Regions from separate parts of the Homo sapiens genome. Here region 2 is linked to region 1. The links come from fine-mapping of genetic effects on gene expression. A gene starts in region 1. The other region holds a variant in brackets. All regions are shown on one strand. Distances are from middle to middle.

Region 1 (11,044 bases):
TACACAGTATGATCCCAATTGTTAAAAAATATATATACACGTACATCAAAGTGTTAATAGTAGATGGTGAGATTATAGGTTTTATTATCTTCTTTACACTTTTCAGTAAGTTCCAAATTTACCTAATAAATATTTATTATTTTCATAATCAGGAGAAAAGAAGCTATTCTCAATCCTCTTCCATCCTTTTAAAAACCTTCTCATACATTATTCCCTCTTTTAAAAACCATTTGGAAACAAAAACAGTTATATCCTACAATCTAGCAAGTTCTATTTTGAGTTTCTATCCCAAGGAAAACTCTAAATATTGAAAATACTTTGTACACCAAGATGTTCATCACAGCATTGTTTATGATGACAAACAGAAGCAAAAAACCTAAATATCTAAGAAAAGGTGTATGGGTAAGCAAACAAAGGTACCTTCACTTGATGGACCATCGTACAAGCATTTAAATGTTTACAGGCCAGGCTTGGTGGCTCTTGCCTGTAATCCCAGCACTTTGGGAGGCCGAGGTGGGCAGATCACTTGAGGCCAGGGGTTCGAGACCAGCCTGGCCAACACATGGTGAAACCCCGTCTCTACTAAAAACACAAAAATTAGCCAGGCGTGGTGGCAGGCGCCTGTCATCCCAGCTATTTGGGAGGCGAGGCAGGAGAATCGCTTGAACCCAGGAGGCAGAGGTTGCAGTGAGCAGAGATTGTACCACTGCATTCCAGCCTGGGTGACAGAGTAAGACTGTCTCAAAAACAAAAACAAACCACTTACAATTACTAGCCTGGGAAAACTAATGAAATAACAAAAGCAAAAAACAAACAAAAAAACTGGATAAAAAACATATATACTGGCAGGGCATGGTGGCTCATGCCTAAAATCCCAATACTTTGGGTGACTGAGGTGGGAGAATCACTTGAGCCTAGGAGTTTGAAACCAATGTGGGCAACAAAGCAAGACCCCATCTCTACAAAAAATGAAAAAATTAGCCAGGCATGGTGGCGCACGCCTGTGGTCTAGCTACTCAGGAGGCTGAGGCAGGAGGATCACTCAAGCCTGGGAGTTCAAAGCTGCAGTGAGGTGCAGTGAGCCATGATCATGTCACTGCACTCCACCATGGGTGACAGAGCGAGACTCTGTCTTAAATAAATAAATCAAATATCAAAACATTGTATAAAACTCTATGCAGAGAAAAAAATATAAAGGTTTTAAAGCACATCAGCTGCATTTGGTAAAGGAACTAAGAAAATATTTGCATTTGGTAAAGAAACTAGAGAAAATATGGATGTTTTTCTTTAACCTAAATCTTTAGTCTTTTCTTCTTTCTGAATTGTCCCATACTTTCTTTAGAGAATAAGTATTACTTTAAGAGGAAAACAAAACAAAACAAAACAAAAAAACGCTGAATCTCCCTCTGGGCAATGAAAACATTCCCAAATGACAGAGTCCACTCCATCAGTCCCTTCCCCACCACACACAGGCTTCCCCCAGACTAAGGCAGGGTCATATCAGAAGGTCAAGGGAATAAGACTCCTCTCTGTGGTCTAGGGTCTTCTCTGTGGGGTCTCTGAACAAGAAGAAGGTTCCTCTGACCAGCTGCTGTGAAAGGCCCTTTCCCTGCCCCCTCCCAAGTTCTATTCTAGCCTGAACTAATTCACCACAATCCTGAGGGCTGGGAAAAAAATTTCCACCATGGTGATTTGGAACCTGATATTTAGTCCAAGTTTTTCCCAGCCCATTTCTGTGTCAAAGGAGGCCCCTCAAAGCCTCTTAGACAACTAGCACCCAGGCCAGCTTAGCTCCCACATCAATGCTACACTTACAGAAAAACCCCCAAGTTGTCAGTCATCACCAGGGAAATGTGAGAGGAGAAACTGCAGCAGGGATAGCTCCTGTCACACAACCCTACCCTTATGCCCTGAAAGCCTCCTCCTAAGGGATATACAGGGCTTTTTCTGGCATCAGAACTTTTAGACTCCATGTCAAGTCTGTAGTAAATCAACAAAGAGAAAAATCAGAGTACAATCACAACAAAGACAGACAGCTATCCTTTCAAAGACCTTAGAGCCCTCTGCCTCCCCTCTCTATGGAAAGTCCAGTACTGGCCAGAATACTAGCTTCTGAGCAACTGAGTTTGGGTAGTAATCTAGTTTGGACCAAAACACACTGGGACTGTATCAGACCAGAGATTGGCTCTCATTCTGGTATTCATAAAGAGGAGCTCCATTAATTGCCCCAACCCCAAACTTCTCAATACCCAACAGAATGGGAAGTGCTACTCAGATAGGGGGTAAGGAAGGATGCCAAGAAGCAGTGTAACACAGCAGCTTCACAACCTTTTTCCCATCGAGGCACACCTAGAAAATATTACTGTTTCTACAGTACATGGGGTAGAAGCTGATCCCATCCAGAGGGGACTGACTGGGAACTTTAGCTGCCCCTAGGAATAAGGGGATCAGTATTCCAGCACATCTGTGATCCATCTGCAGCACACTAGTAGGGAAGCCCTGAATTAAGGCACTGGGCTGGGTTAGGATTCTTGGAATCAATGTTCTCATCAAATCTTCTCATAGCCCTCATCTCAAGCTCTTCAACTTTGGCTGACAGATCATGTGTCTAGAACAGAAGGCTGGGAGCCTGTGGTCTTGACTCAGCACTGATACAACTTCCCCAGCGAGGATACTCTTCAGGGGGTTTTCCACAGACACACTTGGGGCTAAGGAAGCCCTCCAGCTTACAGCAGCAGCCATATTCCGAGACTGGATATACACAACAGGGTAATTGGTTTTATCAGATTTCTAAACTTTAAAACCCCTTTTTCGGAACACAAGTGATCTCAGATCTGAGTCACTGCTGAGAGGTACAAACTTAAAAGCTACCATTTACTAAGCATATAGTAGATGCCAGACTCTGCTAAGTATTTGACTTCCAATTTCATTAAATCCACACAACAACCTCATGTGGCAAATGCTATTATTATCCCCATGTATAAGAGAAGACTGGGAATCAGATTAAGTAACTTGCTTGAGGTCAAACACTCTTCTAACCAAAGACTATGGATGAAACAGTTGAATCCACTCTGACTTCAAAGTCCATAAGCTTAACCAGGACACCACTATGTCACCTCAACAAACCTCCCAAATAGCTTTTTCAAAAAACCTAACCAATTATAATGAAGCTGACAATCTAGGAAAGAAAAAGGTGAGAAAGGAACAGTTTATCTGACTGTTTCACACCATCAACAAAAATAAGCTAATCTGGCCAGGCACAGTGGCTCATGCCTGTAATCCCAGCACTTTGGGAGGCCAAGGCGGGTGGATCACCTGAGGTCAGGAGTTCGAGACCAGCCTGGCCAACATGGCGAAACCCCATCTCTACTAAAAACACAAAAATTAGCCAGGCTTAGTGGCACGCGCCTGTAATCCCAGCTACTGGGGAGGCTGAAGCAGGAGAACTGCTTGAACCCGGGAGGCTGAGTTTGCAGTGAGCTGAGATCGTGCTGCCGCACTCCAGCCTGGATGACAGAGCCAAACTCCATCTCAAAAAAAAAAAAAAAAAAAAAAAAAAGAAGCTAATCTATAATCTATATTGAGTACTTACTGGGTGCCAAGCACCTTATATACAGGGGCTCACCTAATTCTCACAATCTCACCAGAACAGGATTACCTCCATTTTACAGATGAGGAAGAAGTCTAGGCTCAGAGAAGTTAAGATACTTGCTAAGCCAGAGTCCTTGATTTTTCTACTACACTATGCTTCTCCTGACTGTTCAGGAAATACCCCTAAGCCTGTACCTGGGTCAAACACCTGACTCAGTCAGTACTGTTCCCAAAGCATGGTAGAAAGGGTACCTTTCAGAACAGTGGACACAGGGACACTTAAGAGCCCCCAGAGAAGAACTCAAATCCCCAAGAAGGGATGATTTCCCTGTATTGGAAAACTGAGGTGAAATCCCGTCTCCTGAGACAACTAACTAGCTCTGGCCTGCCCTGTTCCAACCCTTCATCAGCAGCAGCTCAGGCACACAGAAACAAGACCAAAACAAAAGGCATGAGGAAACAAATCAAAATTTTATACAGAAAGGAAGGCATGCAAGTGGGTGGTCCAGTCCCCCATTTGACCTGGGTTCTCCTGGTGCTCTGGTGTCCTGGTTAACTAGGACATCACGTGCATTTTGTGAATATTAAGCCATTAGTTTGCTAACTAAACGAAATGGTCAACCAAGGGCCAATGAGAACATGATGGATTCTGGTTCTGAGCTCTCACAAAAAATGGCCTGGCAGCTCCCACCTAAGGCAGCCTCCCACCCAATCCACCTCACCCCATCCCTTTCTCCCCAGTTTCTATAGCTAACTTGTGTCAGCTTGCTGGGGATTTTCACACCCCCACCAGAGTGCAGATCCCCTCCCACTCTTTTCCCCAACAGTTGGGCTCTTGTTCTCAAGGCCACTAAGTCCCAGTCTCTCCTCCTCAGCCTGTGAGATGGTCACAGCACATTGGTAATCACTGACTCACCCGATCCCCCGAGGAGGCTGGGGGAAATGCAGAGGGCCACAGGATGTATGGCCCACATCCCTTTGGCCCTTCGCAGAGCTGGCGGGCAGAGAGGTGCCAGCGACACCACTTCCCCTTGGAACACTGTGGACCCTCTTTGAGCCAGCTCTGGTGCCAGTGGGCTGATGTCAGATTCTCTACCATCGGAGAGGCCAAGATCTCTAGACAGCTCCACTGTTGCCAACAGATCTAATCTCCTTATTCCAAGGCAGATGAAATCCAATAAGGCTGCTAAGTCCACAACTTATCCCTCCTGATGGGCAGAGGCAAAGGCAGAGTCGGCCATACCAACAATAACGCCAGAATTATTACTGCTTCTTAGAAAACTCTTTGGGGAAGTGAGAACTATTTCCCCAAATTTCTCAAAGATTAACCCCGGTTTACCAATGTTTTCGCTCTGCAAAACTTCATTTTCAGCGCAAACATATTTTCTGGCTCCTTCCCGGTGATACCAGCTCAGAACCTCTCGCTTCATAGAGCCACTGACATCAATGTCCAATTCCCACACCAAAGAAGAATCCCAAAGTCAGCTCTAAAAACCCATTTATACAGACCGTTTGAAACCCACAGAAAGACTAAAAAGCACAGGCTAAACAACACAAACCAGTCACTATGGCTTAACGTGAAAAGGGGGGGAGGAGGCGGGATGGTTTGTGTATTGTTTCACTTGGAGAAATACCCCAGTGAAATGGTTTATCCACATGTTCAGCCTTTCAGGCAAATCCACTCTAACTTAGCAGGATGCCTGCAGGCCGTTCTGAAAATAAGCAGAATGGCATACTCTTTATTCCACCCCCTTCAGGAGCTGCCAGCCGCCTCCCCATCCCCCTCTCCCCCCAAACATCTGGTCTGGGCTGGGAGTGGGACCCACTCCCTGGGAAGCCTCCATGTTCGCAGGAGAGGCGGTGTCCCCACTCAGGGAAGCCTGCTGAGGAGCGAGCCGGCCGCGCTTCTGAATTCCCCCCACCCGCGAGAGGCTCCGGGCTGAGAATGCTAGGGACGGGGAGCCTGGCGAAGAAGCGGGGAAACGGGAAAAGGGCAGCAGAAGGGGGAGGAAGAAGGAGGGAGAAGCCTGGTTCCTAGGACGGTCCCGAACTGGGGACTTCTCCTAAGGGTCCAGCGGTGGAGGCGTCGGTCCCGAGATCCCCGACGGGGCTGTCCGGGCCGGCCAGCGGCTGCTCAGAGGTTCCTGGGAAGACACTGGAGGCCGGGATCCGTTCGGGACCCCGACTGAAAGGGTGGGCGGGACGGGGGCCCAGCACAAAGTCCCAGCCCGGGCGTCGGGACCTGAGGGGCGGTACGCGGGGGAAGGGGCTGGGCTCAGCTCTCACCAGCACCAGGGCGAACCTTTCCTCCAGCTCACAGGGCTCAGGCATCGGCATCTTGCCGGGCGGCAGCAACAACGGGACAGAGGGGGGCTCTCCCGGGACCCCCTCGGCGCTCTCCAGGTTGCCCATCGCGGCGGGGCCCCCTCAGGGGCCTCGGCCCCCCACCTCCACGCTCCGGAGCTTTCGGCTCCGCGGCTCCGACCAGGCTCCTCCCTCAGCGCCGGCTCCCCGAGTCCCGACTCCTCGGCCCCGTCGAGGGCGCCGGGGGTTCCCTGGAGTCCCGCTGGCGGGGGCGCGCGGCGAGGGCGGAGGCAGCGTAGCGGACAGCCGCACCGAAGCAAGGCGGACGGAGGCGGCCGGCTCTTGCTCACACCCGCCGCCTCGCCGCGCTCGGCGCGCCGCCCGGGCGCTGCCCCTCCCCGCCCCCCGCGCTCTTTCCCTTCCCCCGCCAACCTCGCTTCCTCCCACCCACACCCGGCCGAGACTCGGGCTTCCCCCGCGAGCGCCGACTGCAGCCCGCGCGACGCGCGCCCCATTCATGCAGGCCCCGCCTCCCGCCCAGAGGCCTCACAGGCGGCCCGGCCCGCCCCACCTGCGCCCGATTGACGGCCGCGTCTGCCAATCACAGCGCCTCCCGCCCTTGACGGCCTCGTGCCGGGCGCCGAGCGCTCCCTGGCGGCCTCAGCCGGCATCGAATCACCGCGGTTCCCAGAGGGCGTGAGGGGCTGGCGTGGACACACCGGGAATGGACCGTACCCTTTTTCAAAAGGAACTCATGATGTATACAAGTAAGTAAAATATTATACAAGGCATGGCGTACAAAACTAACTACAAGAGAAGTAGAAACAAGCAGGATACTCAGAAGAGGGAGAGAGATAGTACCTGTTAAGAGTCGGGGTGAGGGAGATCATAGTTGGACCAGGCATTGAGGGATGAGGAAGCCCTTACCCGACAGAGGCAGGGGAAAAAACGTTTGGGAGGAGAGAAGCTTAACCATCTGGCTGCGTGTGAAAATGGAGAGGCGGGAGAAGAACGCTGTTCTGGGCTCAGTCGGCGGCTGGGTCGTTGACATTTGCGGTGGAAATTTGTTGTCTAGCCGCCATCTTCTTCCAGTGAGAGCACCCCCTTTTCTTTTAGGAAACCACCTCTCCCCTCTTCTCAGTCTAAATGGAGCTGAATTTTATCCCCAGTTCCAAAGGACCGCATGACCCAGGCCCAGTCAGTCACAACATTTTCCTCCTCTACCCATGGACACTGTTTTAGGGATTGTCACTTGACCCAAGCCCAGACAATATGATATATCCAAGGCTTTCTCTGAAACAATCAGGAAAGAGGCACTCACTCTCTCTCCATTTAGGCTGCAAAATTATTAGAATGTAAACCTGCAGCCGCTGGTGGCCGTCTTATCATCACCTGTAACACATCAAGCCTGCTTGAGAATGAAGCCAGCGCAGAGGAGAGAAAAGCTATGAGACAGGACAAAATTCTAATGACATGCCAAGAACCTGGATCTAACCATGCCTGAAGTTATCACCTAGATTTTTAATTCATTTATTCAACAAATATTTATTTTAGAAAGTTTATTCTATGCCAGATACTATTCTGGGCATTGAAGGTACATCTGCGAACAAACAGGATATACATTGTGTCCTCTTGGAATTCACAATCTGTGTAGAAGGAAAGGTAGACAATAAACTAGACGAGTAAAATGTATAGATGTTAGTGATCAGTGTTAATAAAAATAAAACTGAAAGGTGATAGAGATGGAAGAGGCATTAAGATTTTAAATAGAGTTGCTTACTTGGGAGGCTGAGGCAGGAGGATCAATTGAAACTAGGAGGTTGAGGCTGTAGTGAGCCATGTTCATGGCACTCCACTCTAGCCTGGGTGACAGGGTGAGGCTCTGTCTCAATAAATAAATAAACACAGCTGTTGCTTGTCACAGGCATGATGGCTTCAAGGTTAATTTTCAGAGCTGGAGCGCTAGCCGCATAGGCCTGAGGGCTTACAGTCCCAATGGGGTGGTTGCAGTGTGCTTCATGGCATCTGGAGGTGGCGTTCCTACTGATGACAAGCAGATGACTGGGCTGGAGAGGGAGTTCATGACAGCCATGTATGAGATTGGACCCATACAATATATTACCCCCAAAGGCAGCTTCAGGCACCAGGGAAGACCCTAACAGCTCCCTCCATCACCAAGATAATAGTGAGCTGCATCGGTGAAGAGGACAACAGTGCTGTCAACTGGTTCTGGCTGCACAAAGGCGAGACCCAGTGATGCTCTAACTATGAACCCATTACAAGCTGATGTCCCACAAGTTGGCCCAGTGAGCCCTGGCACTAATTGCTCAAAATGTGCTGTAAAGTATCTTCTCTCCAATAAAGACTAGTCATTGCATTGGCTCCTTCTTCCCCTCCCTCATAATAAATATTTTAAATAGGATGATCAAGGAAGGACTCACTAATAAGATAGCATTTGGATAAAGATCTGAAGGATGCAAGGAAATAAGCTATGTGGCTATCTAGGGAAGAATTATCCAGACAAAGGGAATGGCAAGTGCATACTATCTCTGATGTATTAGAAGAACAGCAAAGATGCCAGTGTAGCTGGAGTGCAATGAGCAAGGAAAAGGGTAGTGAAAGATGAAGTCAGAAAGGTAACCAGAAGCCATATATTGTGTAGGATATTGTAGGCTATTGTGTGAGGACTTCGGTTTTCTCTAAGTAGGATAGGTAGCCATTGGAGGATTTTGAGTAGAGGAGTGGTATGATCTAACATGTTTTGTAACAGGGATCACTCTGGCTCTTGCATTGAAAACAAACCAATAGAAGTATGGACAGGGAGACTAGTTAGCAGGCTAGTGCAATCATTTGGGTGAGAGATGGTTTGAACCAGGGTGGTAACTGTACCGGTGGAAAGAAATGGTCAGATTCCTTATTAAAGACTTGAAAGTAAAGCTGATGGAATTTCCTGATAGTTTGAATGTGGAGGGTGAATGAAAGATAACTGCAAAGTATTTGACTTGAGCAACAAAGATGGTGGAGTTTTCACTAATTGAAATGGGGGAAGTGATAGGAGGAGTAGGTTTGGTGAGGGGGAACTGGAAAGGGAAGGTCAGGAACAAGTTTGGGCCATGTTGAGTTTGATTTGCCCTTTGGACATCCAAGTAAAGATATCCACTAAGCAATTGGATATAAATGAGTTTGCTCTTCAGACTCATATATGTCTTATTGCGATTGCACCCCGCTGGGACTGCAAGCCCTCAAAGCCTTCATGGCCAGCGTTCCAGCTGTGCAAAGTAACCTTGAAGCCATCATGCCTGCGACAAGCAGCAGCTCTACTTATTAATTTATGCAATTTGGCAATGTAAATTTGGAAATCATCGTCATATAGATGCTATTAAAGCTAGTAAATTCTTTTTCTTTTTTATTTTATTTTTTTATTTTATTTATTTATTTTTTTTGAGACGAAGTCTCACTCTGTCGCCCAGGCTGGAGTACAGTGGTGTGATCTCAGCTCACTGCAAGCTCCGCCTCCCAGGTTCACGCCATTCTCCTGCCTCAGCTTCCTGAGTAGCTGGGACTACAGGCGCCTGCTACCACGCCTGGCTAATTTTTTTGTATTTTGAGTAGAGATGGGGTTTCACTGTGTTAGCCAGGATGGTCTCGATCTCCTGACCTCGTGATCTGCCCGCCTCAGCCTCCCAAAGTGCTGGGATTACAGTCGTGAGCCACCGCGCCTAGCCAAAAGCTAGTAAATTCTTTTTCTAACTCACTATGCATTGGGTTCCTGTTGTTTACAACCAAGAGGTAGAGTCCCTGTCTTTCCAAACCATTGAAACCCTTTCCTGTGAAGCTCAGCCTCTTCTAATCAGTGAACAAATTAATCAGTTCACATCTTATCCCCTTTCTTCATCTCCACTTCTTACCCTAAATACGTGCCTTCCCAACTGCTGTGGCAGACTCTTCTAAGCAGAGGGGTTATAACAAGACTGTAGACTTCCACTAGACAAAAGTTGAGAATTCAAGAAGGGAAATAATTCACCATTTATCATGGATGCACAAGGAACATCTAGCAAAAAGAAGAAACTCGATAGGACAGTGAACAGCAGTGTATTCACCTTTTGTGTGGTTTCTTAGTCCCTAACCTTTTAATTCTGTTTTTGCTTGCCTCAAGCATAACCACCAGATTTATATACTCTAGGGTCTTTGGGGATCTGCTAGATTACTTCTTTCATTGTTAACTGCCTGCTCACCCACCTTTAAATGCTTACTTTCTGTAGGATAAAACTAAAACTCCTTATTCTGATATTCGAGGGTCTATCTCTAAACGCTAATGTCTTCTAATCAAATCAACCCTTTGCTTCAGCTGGAAAGGTCCATCTCCAAACATTAGTTGCTCATTCTTATGTCTGGCTTTGCTCTTTGTGGTAGACAGAATAATGGCTCCCAAAGTATCCATGTCCTAATCCCCAGAACCCGTGTATATGTTATCTTACATGGCAAAAGGGACTTTGCAGATGTGATTAAGTTACAGATCTAGAGATGAGAAGACTCTCCAGGTGATCTCAATGTGATGACAACGGTCCTTATAAGAGGAAAGGCCAAAATGAGGGAGGGAGATGTGATGACAGAAGCAGGAGTCAGGGTGAGGTGGAGCCATGAGCCAAGGAATGCAGTAGCTTCTAGAAACTGAAAAAAGTCAAGGAAACAGATTCTCCCCTCAATCCTCTATAAGGAACATGGCCCTGTCAACACTTTAATTTGAGCTCTGTTAGACCTAATTTCAGACTTCTGATCTCTAGAACTATAAAATCATAAATCTGTGTTGTTCTTAGCCACCGTTTGTGATAATTTGTTAGAGAACCAACAGGAAACTAACACATTCCTGCTGCGTCCCTGATCTGGATTTCTTCTTCCTTCTACTCCATCTATCCAAATCCCACCCAGGCTTAATACAATCTTTAGGTTTATTGGGTGCTTATGTGCAAAACATCTGACTAGATGCCGGTAGATAAAGAAAGAATGCAAGATGAAAAGGTGAACAAGAGACCTGCTGCCAACTTCAAAAGAGCTCCAAGTCTGGTGCAGGAGAGGCAAGGTAGAGCGGAGGAGTGTGGACCCAGTTTGAAGGAACCGTGTAAGATCATTGGTATTATATTGGTGGGTA
Region 2 (11,044 bases), 36 kb before region 1:
CAGCTGGCTACACACAGGTGTCCCCTCCCTCTAAAGAATCCTGGGAAGGCTTGCCCTGGGGGCGGATGAGGGCTGCTGCTACAACAGGAGGGGAAAGGCTAATGATGTCATTTGGCTGTCTCTAACCCCCTGTCAGGAAGCCTGGGCACCCCACCCCCACCTGGGCCTCCACTGCTCACTCATAAGCACTGGACATTTGTGCCAGGCCCTCCCATCAGGTCTATACCCCTGCCTGCAGTTCTACATCACGTGTCCCTCACTGTCCTTTTGCATAAGCACACATACGCACACATATACACACTTTCTCTCTCTCTCTCTCACTTTCATATACCTTTGCATATACCTTTGCTGATTACAGTTTCGTAACACTGAGGCCAATACCCTCTTTCACTGTACCTTACACATTAGCTCTTTGCTTGTTCAGCAATTCCTGGTTTCCCACTCAGGGACTGGAAAAAAAAAAAAAAGACTCACACAGTTCCTAAGGGCCCTATCAATGTGTTGGGGACACCAGGGTCTGTGAATATAGAAAACATTCAGCTCCTGCCCCCAGTGCCTTACATCTTTCCTGGTGCTTAAGGAAGCTTCTGCTCATGAACTAAGATTATCTTCTCCCAAACAAGCAAATAAACTTCCAGGCACCAAAAAGTCCAAATAGTCACCGAATGGGAACTAGGTCTCAGCTACCCAATATAGTATGTTCTCCCCACCCTCAGCCTTCTCTGAGCCTCGCTTGGCCCAGCACCAGGCCACAGGCAGACTCCAGTCTCAACTGCTGTGGGAATGTCTTCCACTCAAAGCCACAGGCAGAGGACCCCAGGAGAGGCCTCAAGCTTGCCAGAAACATCTAGTCAGCAGCTGGCAGAGCTGAGGGGGTAGAAAAGCCAGTAAAGAACCAGTCCAAAGCTCTGGGGAGCCAGAAGCCATTCAAGGGGCAACTCTGCCCCATGGCAGGGAAGATGAACAGGAACACCATCCTCAGAGGACACCAGACCCTGTGTGCCCAGCCAGCAGCCTGGGGCCAGATGAAGAGGCTATACGGCCAATCCAACTCACCCAATGTGGTTGGTGCGAAGAGAGATCTCCAGCTCCCTTAGTACTTTGGTTGACTCCTGCACCCTCCTCCTGAACTTCTGTAAAAAGGGTAGGAAAGGAAGGGAATACAAGAGGGCAGTTATAGACTTTCCCTCCATTACTGGCCAGCCATTCCAGGCCCTTGGCCACAGAACCCTGAAATCCAACTCCCAATGCTCAGAAACAGATGTCCAATATCCAAGTCAAAGGGTTTGCCCCCAAACCCCACAGGACTATAAAGGGTGGCAAGACGGGGACTCTCTGCCTCATACTTCACCTTCCGAGTTACACTGGGGTCCAAGAAGCTCTGGAGTTTCTGAATGTAAGTGTGGGGAGGATTCTTCACCTGGAATCGTTCCTGTAAGGGAAACATGCATATGCGTATCCACAAAGACAACCAGAGACCTGAGGAGGGCACTGAGGAAGAAGAGCATTCATAGTGTTCAGTGTGAGGGGGACTCAGCCTCTCCAAGTTGTCACCTGGCTCTAGATATCACCTAAACTTGAGGTTCCCTTCCTTGACTTATCCCCAGGTGTTACCACCTGTTGCCATCTCCTCCTCCTCCAATTAGTGCTCCCTGAGCCTAAAATGTTTTTCTATGTCAAAAAGTATTTTAAAAGTGTGCTGCTTGCTACAAAGATGTTGGGGATTACAGAGTTGTGAACAGCACCCAAAATAAAGATATAATTGATTGCGCTTGGGAGGTCGAGGCAGGGGGACTGCTTGAGGCCAGGAGTTTGAGAATAGTCTGGATAACATAGGAAGACTCTGTCTCTACAAAAAAAACTTTAAAAAATTAGCCAGGCATGGTGGCTACCACATGCCTGTAGCCCTGGCTACTTAGGCTGAGGTGGGAGGATCCCTTGAGCCCCGGAGTTTGAGGCTACAGTAAGATATGATCATGCCATTGCACTCCAGCCTGGGCAACAGAGTGTGATCCCTCTCTAAAAAAAAAATTAAAAAAAGATATGATTGGGAAATGCTGTTCACTGCCTGGCCAACTAATGGATATGGGTTAGGAAGGCCAAGGGGAGAGGAGCTTGGCTTTGTAGAATCCAACTTTCTCAGCAATGAACTCTGCAGTTGGGACTGGAATGGTTTTGCTGAGCTGACACAGCTCAGGGCTGCAAACACTGCTCCTTGCCCAGACTCCCAACAATCCAAAGCAACCTCAAATACTGAAGGCTGCATTCAGCAAGGTCATCCCTCGATTCCCTTCTACCTAGGACCTGGGACCACGTCCTACTTTAGGCCAACCCCTTCATCTGACCCAAAAAGAAACTCAGGGAGTACCCCTTAGCATTCTGGTCCTATTAGAGCTGCCACCACCAAGATATCTGAAGAGCTGGTGGGTGGAGGGGCTGAAAAATGTCCAGGAGAATGATATAATGTTAGAGAGTAGGACCTAAAAACAAATCAAAGAAAAAAACGAAAGGTGTGAGAAACAGCTGAAATTATCTGACCTAGGAAAGACTGAGAGATCAATTAAAGACCCTCAATATCAAAGGGTTACTGTTCTCCAAACCCCAAGCAGGTGCTAACCAACTCCTCTTAATGCAGAACACAAGGATATGGACCTTTGTTGGAGAAGGGACTTGGACTAAGATCTCTGAAGCATACTACTAGCTTACGTCAAGCAGCATGACCTGGGGAGGCAGTGGAACAGAACAGTTAACACAGACTTGGCATCTGCTTGCCTGAGCTCAGCCCTGGCTTCATCACCTACTAGCATTAGGCAAGTTACTGAGCCTTGGGTTCTTCATCTATAAAATGCCAACACTGCCTTCCTCAGAGGGTTCTGTGATGATTAAATGAGATACTTCAGTGTGTTGAGTACTTGGTCCATAACAAGCACTCAATAAATGTTACCTATTATTATTTCACCCAGAGCCTGAAAAGAAATAATAAAATTGTACATGGCAAAGTGCTGGGTAAACACACTACCCACACTGCCAGATACTTCCATCTCTACCAAGATGTAAAAAGGTAAAAGCCAACTCTCCCAGCCCTGCATACAGTCCTGTCTCATTTCACAGACTCGTGACTCATGATCTTCAAATGCATGCAAGGGAAAGAGCCAGGTCATATGTGTTAGAAGACTCTCAACTCTGAGCAAAGTAATGATTTCTATTCTCTTCCAGCTCTCAACACTGTTCATGCAGAGAGAGTTTCCAGACCTTGACTCTTCTGAGATTTGGGAACAAAAGACTAGAGTCTGGGGCTTCTCATTCCTAGAGGCCCTGAGATAATGAGAAAGACCCTGCTATTTGCCAGGGCTAAGACAGAGTGAGAGATCAACAGTCCTTTGAGCACCCTACCGGGCATAGCCCTGAACCTGCACAGCCAATCCTATACCCCTGATCTACACAAATCCCCTTATACTATTGCCCATTGGAAGAAATCAAGACAGCTCTTTGTGGGAGCTAGAGGGGAACTTGGCCTGCCAGCTCTGTCTCTGTTATGAGAATCCTCTTGGAAAAGAAAGTGAACACAGATGAGGCCAAGCTTAGGCCAGGGTTCCTCAAGGAACCCAAGGCTGCACTCAATGCCTTTGGCCCCACAGCCTTAGCCAGCCCAAGACACAACTCCCTACCTCCCTCCTCTTTCCCAAACCCCATACCTGGTCACAGATCAGATCCCATTTCTTCTCATTGTCATACTGCCGCAGGAGCCGGGCCTTGTCTGGAGGCAGGTTCATGGAGCTCTGAGGAGAGAACCTGAGTCAACAAGGCTGAAACCTCCCCTCATCTGGAAAAGAGAAAGACTAGACTGCCCACACCTTTCTGCTACTGGGCCCTCAGACTTCACCCTGACACTCCATCGCTGATAAGGCAGGCTTGGAAAGGTAGAACAGTCCTCCAGCCTCCCCTTCATGTTTGGTTGAGCAATGTTTTCCAAACCACTGGTAGTAGAATCAATTTAATCAGTCAAAATTAACTCTATTTTAAATGAAAACGAGCTGATTAAAATAGGATAGAAGATACCAGAATTCGGAAGTATAAATAATGTTTTGTGAAGCTTTAGTTTCTTTTCTATTTTATGTATATAAACAAATATGTCATATACATACATCATACCATAAAATGTGACGGGAACATGAGATGGGTCAAAAAATTTGAAAACCCACCAGGTTAAAGCAGCAATTTTTTTCAGTTTGCTTTTCCCCCATAACCTGAGAGATGGGCAACTTGCCTACAACATCCATTCCCATGGGCAAATCCTGAGCCACCCACAACCTATGTAGATGCTATAACTGTGACCCTCTTGCCCATATCAGCACACAAGTGAATGAGAAGAACATTAGCATGAAGATAACTGCTTAAATTTTTTTGGAAAAGAATTTTTAGGCAAAAATTCACAAAAGTACCAGACTTTAATTGTTAGTAGCAAATTTCTTATGAAACACCTCCCAATTAATTAAGACACAGCAAAGCACCCTAACCCCTTGGCAAGCCACTCTAATACAGGCTATTTGAAGGACAGACCAGGAATCATTTTATCTTGTTCACCACTGTTTGGTGACTGAATAAGGTACGAGAGAATGAGTGAGTGAAGCCTAAGGACTTCATCCATGGACTAGCCCTACCCATGCTAGGAGGCTACGTTCCCTACCTTTATCCCCATTCAGTCAAACCTTTCTTCTCATCAGTCTGGCTGTCTTTGTTCCAGGTCACAGCCCTTACCTCTAAAGGCAGTCTGGGCCAGATGCAGTAGCTCACACCTGTAATCCCAGCACTTTGGGAGGCCGAGGTGGGCGGATCACTTGAGGCCAGGTGTTCAAGACCAACCTGGCCAACATTGCAAAATCCCATCTCTACCAAAAATACAAAAATTAGATGGGTGCAGTAGCGCACACCTGTAATCCCAGCTACTCAGGTTGCCAAGGCACAAGAATTGCTTGAACCTGGGAGGTGGAGGTTGCAGTGAGCCAAGATCACGCCACTGCACTCCAGCCTGGGCAACAGAGAAAGATTCTATCTCAACAAAACAAAACAAAACAAAACAAAACAAAACAAAACAAAACACACAAACAAAAAAGAATAAAGGCAGTCTGACACTTTAATCAGACCACTGTACCTGCTCCCTCGTAATCTTGAATCAAATATGATCGCCTACCCAAAGTGTCGCAGCTGC[G/A]TGATCACCCATGTGACTTCCCACAAATTCAGCTTCTTCTTAAGCATAGTGCCAGCCACCTAGAAGGCTGCCTCTCATCTTTCTCTCCTTTAACTACTGTCCAGGTTCAGCTCTAACTCCCTGGTAACCCAAGCATGACCACTTCATTTACCTCTGCCCAATTCTTGGCATCCTCATCCCTGGGGACATGAACTGTGTGCATCCAGGGTCCCTGAGGAGTCACATAGGCCCTGCATTATTCCAGAAGAGGCAAACAAATCCTAGAAGGAGGTCCTCTAACTTTCGATGGAACCAAAAGAAAATCCCAAACATTTATTCTGTCATATTATCTATTTATTATAAACATAACTCAGATATACTCCTAAACCAGCTGTATACTCATCTAGCCCCTAAAGTGCTGTGTCTATTTTCACCATCTCCAGCTCCCAATATGCATCTAGTGGGGGCAGTAAGGTGATAATAAACTTATGTGGAAGAGGTCCCAGGTCTGAGCTACAAGCCCAGCTACTGGCTGGAAACGAGGTCACTATAGCTCAAAAAGGAAGTAGGGTTGAAGTCTTCAGTTGGAATTTATACATGGAAGAATTTAGGACCAAAGAAGTGGGGCAGGTGAGAGAAACAAAGAAGGGGAAGAAAGCCCCACATCATACCTCTCCCCATGGTTCCTGCTGCACTATGCATCTGCCTGAACTTCCACAGGAAAGTGAGGCTGAGTCCTCCTCACAGTCTATGTAGGATGGATGGCAAGATGGTCAAACACAAGCCTGGAATGTTCTCTCTGAAACTACTTTGTTAAGGCCAATCTCAGCATACCCGTGTGGACAGCAGGACAGGAGCAAGAGGCCTCAACAAAACAAGGACTCAAGGTCAACCCAGAGTAGATCTCCTAACTCAGCCTAACTGTGGCCAGGCTGCTGCCAGATGAACTCAAGACAGAACTGAGCAGAAATAGTCCTCAGGACTGGCCCTGGCTCTGTGCATATCCTAAACACATCGCTGCCATCTGACCATTTCTCCTAAGTCTGTGCCATGAAAATAGTTTTCTGTTGTCTCCCCTGGAAGAAAGCTGCTGGAATGGAGGAGGGGGCAGCCTGTCACTGCTGTGGCAGACATCACATCCTGTCTATGCCAACTTCCTCCCTCAGCCACCCACTGTCAGCAGCTGTGGCTCATACTTCTCCACCAGGTGAACTGATGAGGAAACACTTGGTCCCCTCGGTTTGAAAAACTGGGCAAAGTCACCCCCTTGGGGAGTCCTGGCCTAAGAGCATGGAAGAGGCACAGCAGGGACCTGGTCAAACTCTAGATCCCCAGGAAGGAATGATCCCAAAGTATGGAAACGGGTGGTAGAGGCATGAAGTAGGTCTGACCATAGCCATATCCTCCTGTCTTGAGCTTTGGGTGGCACTTTCTTGACAGTGGTCTCAGACTTCTCTGCTTCTTCTGGGCTGAAGTGTGATAGGGAAGGAGGTGGGTAAGGGGAATTCCCCCAAGCTCCAGCATTCTCAGAAGAAACGGGTCACTGGCTGCCAGTGGGAGCCACCTGCCAAGGGGGCATAAACCAGAGCCTGGCCTGGACAGTTCTCTTCCTGCTAGACAAGGGCATCAGGGCTTTTGCCTCTACCTGATAATGTGTGTGAGTCTGGCAGGGCTCCAATGTCCTAAGGAAGCCTCTCTGCCCTTAGGAATGACAACTTCCTGAGTTCCGGGGACAGCAAAGTAGCAAATTTGACACAGTTCCGGTCTCAGTCAAAAGTTTGTTTCCTTGACATTTTTTCTTCAGTGGTTCCACAGACACTGTAGGCTCCCAGAAGGCAGAAGCTGAGCTAAGTTCTTGCTAACTCCTCATTGAGACCCTTGCTGAGCAGAAAGGAGGCAGTGGCTGTCTTGGAAAGGAGAGGGCACTAAATGTGGGTGAAGTCAGAGGGCCCAAGATCAACTTTGGGCTCTTCAGAGTTATGGAGCCTTGGTGAACGCATCCATAAACGAGATAATCTCACTACTTCACAGGGTTTTAGCTGAGGATTAAAAGATAAATATTTTATGTCTGTATGTGTCTGGAACACTGTGGGTGTTCAACACAGTCCCCCTCACCGCCTGCTTCCTCCCGAAAATCTTGTGTCATGTTCTGATGTCCGAGGGACCTGCCCTCTTGCTTCTAGGCTGTCTCTCTCTCTCTGCCTCCATCCCACCTTCAGCAATTGCTTCGCAACACTCTGACTACAGAGCAATCCATTATCCCTTCACTGATCCTGCTCTGGCTTCCTCTAAGACTAGGCGCCAATTTTGGTATCATTATCTTGAGGGGTGGGGGACATGGCAGGAGACTCCAAGGAAGAAGTAAGGGAGGTAAGTCACAGCCAAAACAGTCACAATAGGAGATGTGAGGAAAAGGGGAAGATGAACTCAAACTGAAAGCAACTCTGGGACCGATTCCTAAATCACAGGGAACCAGCAAAACATCTAATAATAAAAATCTATAATGGGAAGAAGCCGAAAGGCATGGAGCTGGTGCTTCTCCAGCAAGGCTGCTCTGTTTGCCAGTTTGAGGCCAGGCAAATCTCCCTGCACAATGGGGTGCATGTGAGCAAGGCCTGGTCCCTCCAGCAAGGTTTCCTAACTCTCCACCTGACCCCTGACAGCCCCAGTCAAGCCAAGGAGGGAGGCAGCTCTGGTGGCAGAGGTTCCCTTCCCTTTCCCACTCTGCACCCCCAGCCCAGTGAGCCCCTCCTCATTTCCTTCCCACTGCAGGGGAAGGGAAATGCCGGTAGGGTTTGGAGTTTCCTTCAAAGCTGTGAGCTCTGCTCTGGGACTTGCCCCTACTCTGACAGTCTTCTTGAGCCAGGCCTGGGGAAAACCCAAAAAACAGAAATAGGAACCACCAAAAATTCCCAACTGTTTTTGTTGGTCCCTATCATGATAAATCTTAGGAACAGAGACCAAAATGGCATAGCTTCGAGAGACAGGGAGAGAGACGTTTGTAATGTTCCTGGGAAAGAAACTGGAGGCTTTAGGGAAGCTCCAGCAGGGGCTGTTTGTTTTGAGCAAATACAGAAAGTGAGAGGTAGTTTTATTAATGTTTTCCCTCTTGAACCACCTCCCACCAGGTTTCCTATGGCTGTCTTCTCCCAAGTGTGGTAGCCTCAGCCCCCACACTCAGCCCATGGGGACAGGGAGTCCTGAGAAACTGAATCTAGAACTGCCCCACAGATTAAATGAGTGCTGTCCTGGGCACCACACACTTCTCAACGTGCTGCTGAGCCCCTGACCGCAGGTCCAAGTCCTCCGTGGCATCCACAGATCAGCTCATTGAGCAGATGAGCAAAGATGGAAAGTGGCAAGTGGACACAAAATTTGGGAGTCCAGAAGACTGCTGAAGGAGGAGCTGTAACACAGTGTTCCCACCCCATGTTCCCATGTTCCCACTAGGATTCCCCTCACAAACCAACAGATCTGCCCCAAGCCAGTGGCAAAGCAGGCAACACAAGGCACAAAGGCCCATTACTAGCTGCCAAAAGGACAGAGTGTAAGGAACGGCCTCCACATGTCTCTACTGGTGGGCAGTAGGCACAGCTGTGGCCAGTTGGGCCCTGCTCCCAAAGGGCAAGAGCCCAAGGAGGTGGGAGGTACCAGCTCCTGCTGCCTTGGCCCCTTGGCGGCCACAGCCAGTCCTGCCGCAGTAGCAGCTCCTAGACAATGAGAGTTATTTTCAGCCAGCACTTTAACACAAGCCAGCTGGCCAGTGAGCAGGGCGGGAGTCCTCCTCCACCCAGCCCGCCCAGACGGCAGGCCAGCCGGCCCAGCCCATTGCCTACACTGCTGCTGCCGCCGCCTCCACGTCACTGTTTGTTTATCTCATTGTTCCAGCACAGCTCCTTCTAACTCCCCTCAAAACTGCAATCCTTTGTAAAAGGGAATCAAAAAAAATCAGAGAGTTTGATCAAAGGTCCAAGAGCTAAAATTTTAAAAGGTCCAGACATGGGAAGTACGGCAGCCCCTCCAAACACCCACACTTTTCCCCAGCCTTGTGACTGGCTGGGGTAGCACAGGGGAGGAAATGGAACAGATGGATGGTCAGATCTCACTGCAGCTCTCACAGACCAAGGCCAAGCCTGGCTTCGCTGCCAACCTGGGGAGACAAAGCTCAAGACTGCTCTCCTTGCTTTGACTCCCTCCCATCCTCCTCTCCAGAGCTCGGGTTTGGAGAAGATAACTTGAAACAGACAGCCTGAAATGGGCTGAGTCAACTATGAAAGGTTCTGGGCAAAGATCTATATCCTGTGGCAGAAAGGAAATCACAGAACAGTCAATAACACTTGGCCAGAAGGACAGGCAACCCCCTGCCCTGCCTCGATAGAGTAGGGGCAAACACTTCAGCTGTACCACCCCACCACCACACCAAAGCACTCAAGAATATAAAGGATGAAAGGCAGCAGTTACCTCCCTGGACTCTAGGCCTCCAGCCCTGGTCCTGCCAAACTCTACAGCCTCCCCAGGGCAGCTCCCCATTACTACTCATCTCCTTCCTTATGTGACCCCACACACAGAAGCATGTGAGTACAAGTCTAGCTACACAGCTTTCTCTAGGCCCCAGCTGCCCTCTTAGACATCTGAACAAATTGCTTAGGTACCACATGACAAAAGGCATAAGAAAAATGGGTGCTCCTTAAGTGTCTGTAGTATCTTAGATCTGCCTTGCAGGTTTTGTTCAATTGAAGCTACCACTCTGGTGATGAGCTGCCAGGGAAAAGCCAGCTCTCACAGGCTCGGAACCATGTCTGGAGAACGTGCTTTTGTGGTCACTGAGGACTCTGTAACCAGAAATGACTTGCTGAGCAGTTACGGGCCAAGTCCCTGAGCAGCCTGGAAGAAAAAGAAATGGATTCACCAGATGTCTCTGGTTGAGCTCTGCAGTTCACACCAGGGAAGTCAGATGAAGGAGAGGTCCTAAAAGGCCAGCATCATTCAAACAAAGAGATGGCTTTTTCTAAATACAATTATACCCCCGGGGCCTCTTCTTCATCCTAGAGAATTCCTCCACCGGATCCTGAGAAGGCAAAGGATATTGGCCATGTCCCCAAAGTTGGTAAAGCCTCAAACTCTTTCCTCTGCCACACTGTTGGCCTCATACCTGACATGAGATAACCTCTGCAGGTAACCCTGAGGTCCCCAAACCCTGATTAAGGCCACCCTTTCTGGCCTGCCCAGTCAAAAAATATACAATCTCCGATAGGAGCTTCTGTCAGCGCTTCCCAACTGAGCACCCAGGCCCTAGTAAAAAGCTACTGCCACAGCAACTTGATCTGTCTATTGGCTCCTCGGCCCCTCCTCGTGGTTAGCCAGACCCACACACTCCCCAGTTACGCAGAATGGAAAGTATTCTGCTGGGGGCAGCTTATTTTCCAAAGCCAAGGAGTCTTGGGGCAGAGCCTCGCATTCTCCCTGCAGCCAACCAACGACCTCCCTCTCTTCATGAGGTTCTGTCCTCCCACCTGGGGAGCCCAATGGGCAGTGCTACCTCTCAGAGGACACAATATTTCTGGGGTCACAACTCCCTTTCTCCTCATACCAACAGGCCCAGTGAGTCTCCCTCCCAAGGTCTCTCATCTATATTTGCCCTTCCATTCCCACTGTCATCACCTGGGTGGGCCGTTACTGTTCACTTGCCGCCCTCTGGGATAAGCTTCTAGCTGGCATCCCTACTTCCAATACTTTCCTCCCTGCCATCCTGCACATGAATGAAACTTTCAAACTTCCAAGCACATAAGATAAATCATGTTTCTCCTTGGTTCAGAAATCTTTTTTGACTCCTTATCATTTATATGAGAAAACCTG

What was found. PIP is the estimated chance that this variant, and not a neighbour inherited with it, causes the effect.
Region 2: its variant is fine-mapped to the expression of FMNL3 in whole blood (TOPMed, PIP 0.98).

The regions. Positions count from the first base shown.
Region 1 is chr12:49,701,178-49,712,221 of GRCh38, forward strand. FMNL3 (formin like 3) reads right to left here and starts at 6,228. Exons shown (of 26, transcript NM_175736.5): 1 at 5,878-6,228. The coding sequence starts at 6,003. LOC124902929 (a long non-coding RNA gene) reads left to right here and starts at 6,549. Exons shown (of 3, transcript XR_007063299.1): 1 at 6,549-6,662. It also overlaps the pseudogene COX5BP5. RefSeq lists enhancers at 2,739-2,828, 2,849-2,938, 6,662-6,811 and a silencer at 5,872-6,641.
Region 2 is chr12:49,664,776-49,675,819 of GRCh38, forward strand. It overlaps FMNL3 (formin like 3), which reads right to left. Exons shown (of 26, transcript NM_175736.5): 2 at 3,696-3,779; 3 at 1,352-1,432; 4 at 1,057-1,133. Among named protein-coding and RNA genes, the nearest start is that of FMNL3, 37 kb to the right of the region's middle. RefSeq lists enhancers at 8,743-9,441, 9,665-9,754, 9,805-9,884. The variant G/A (reference allele first, on the strand shown) is at 5,210.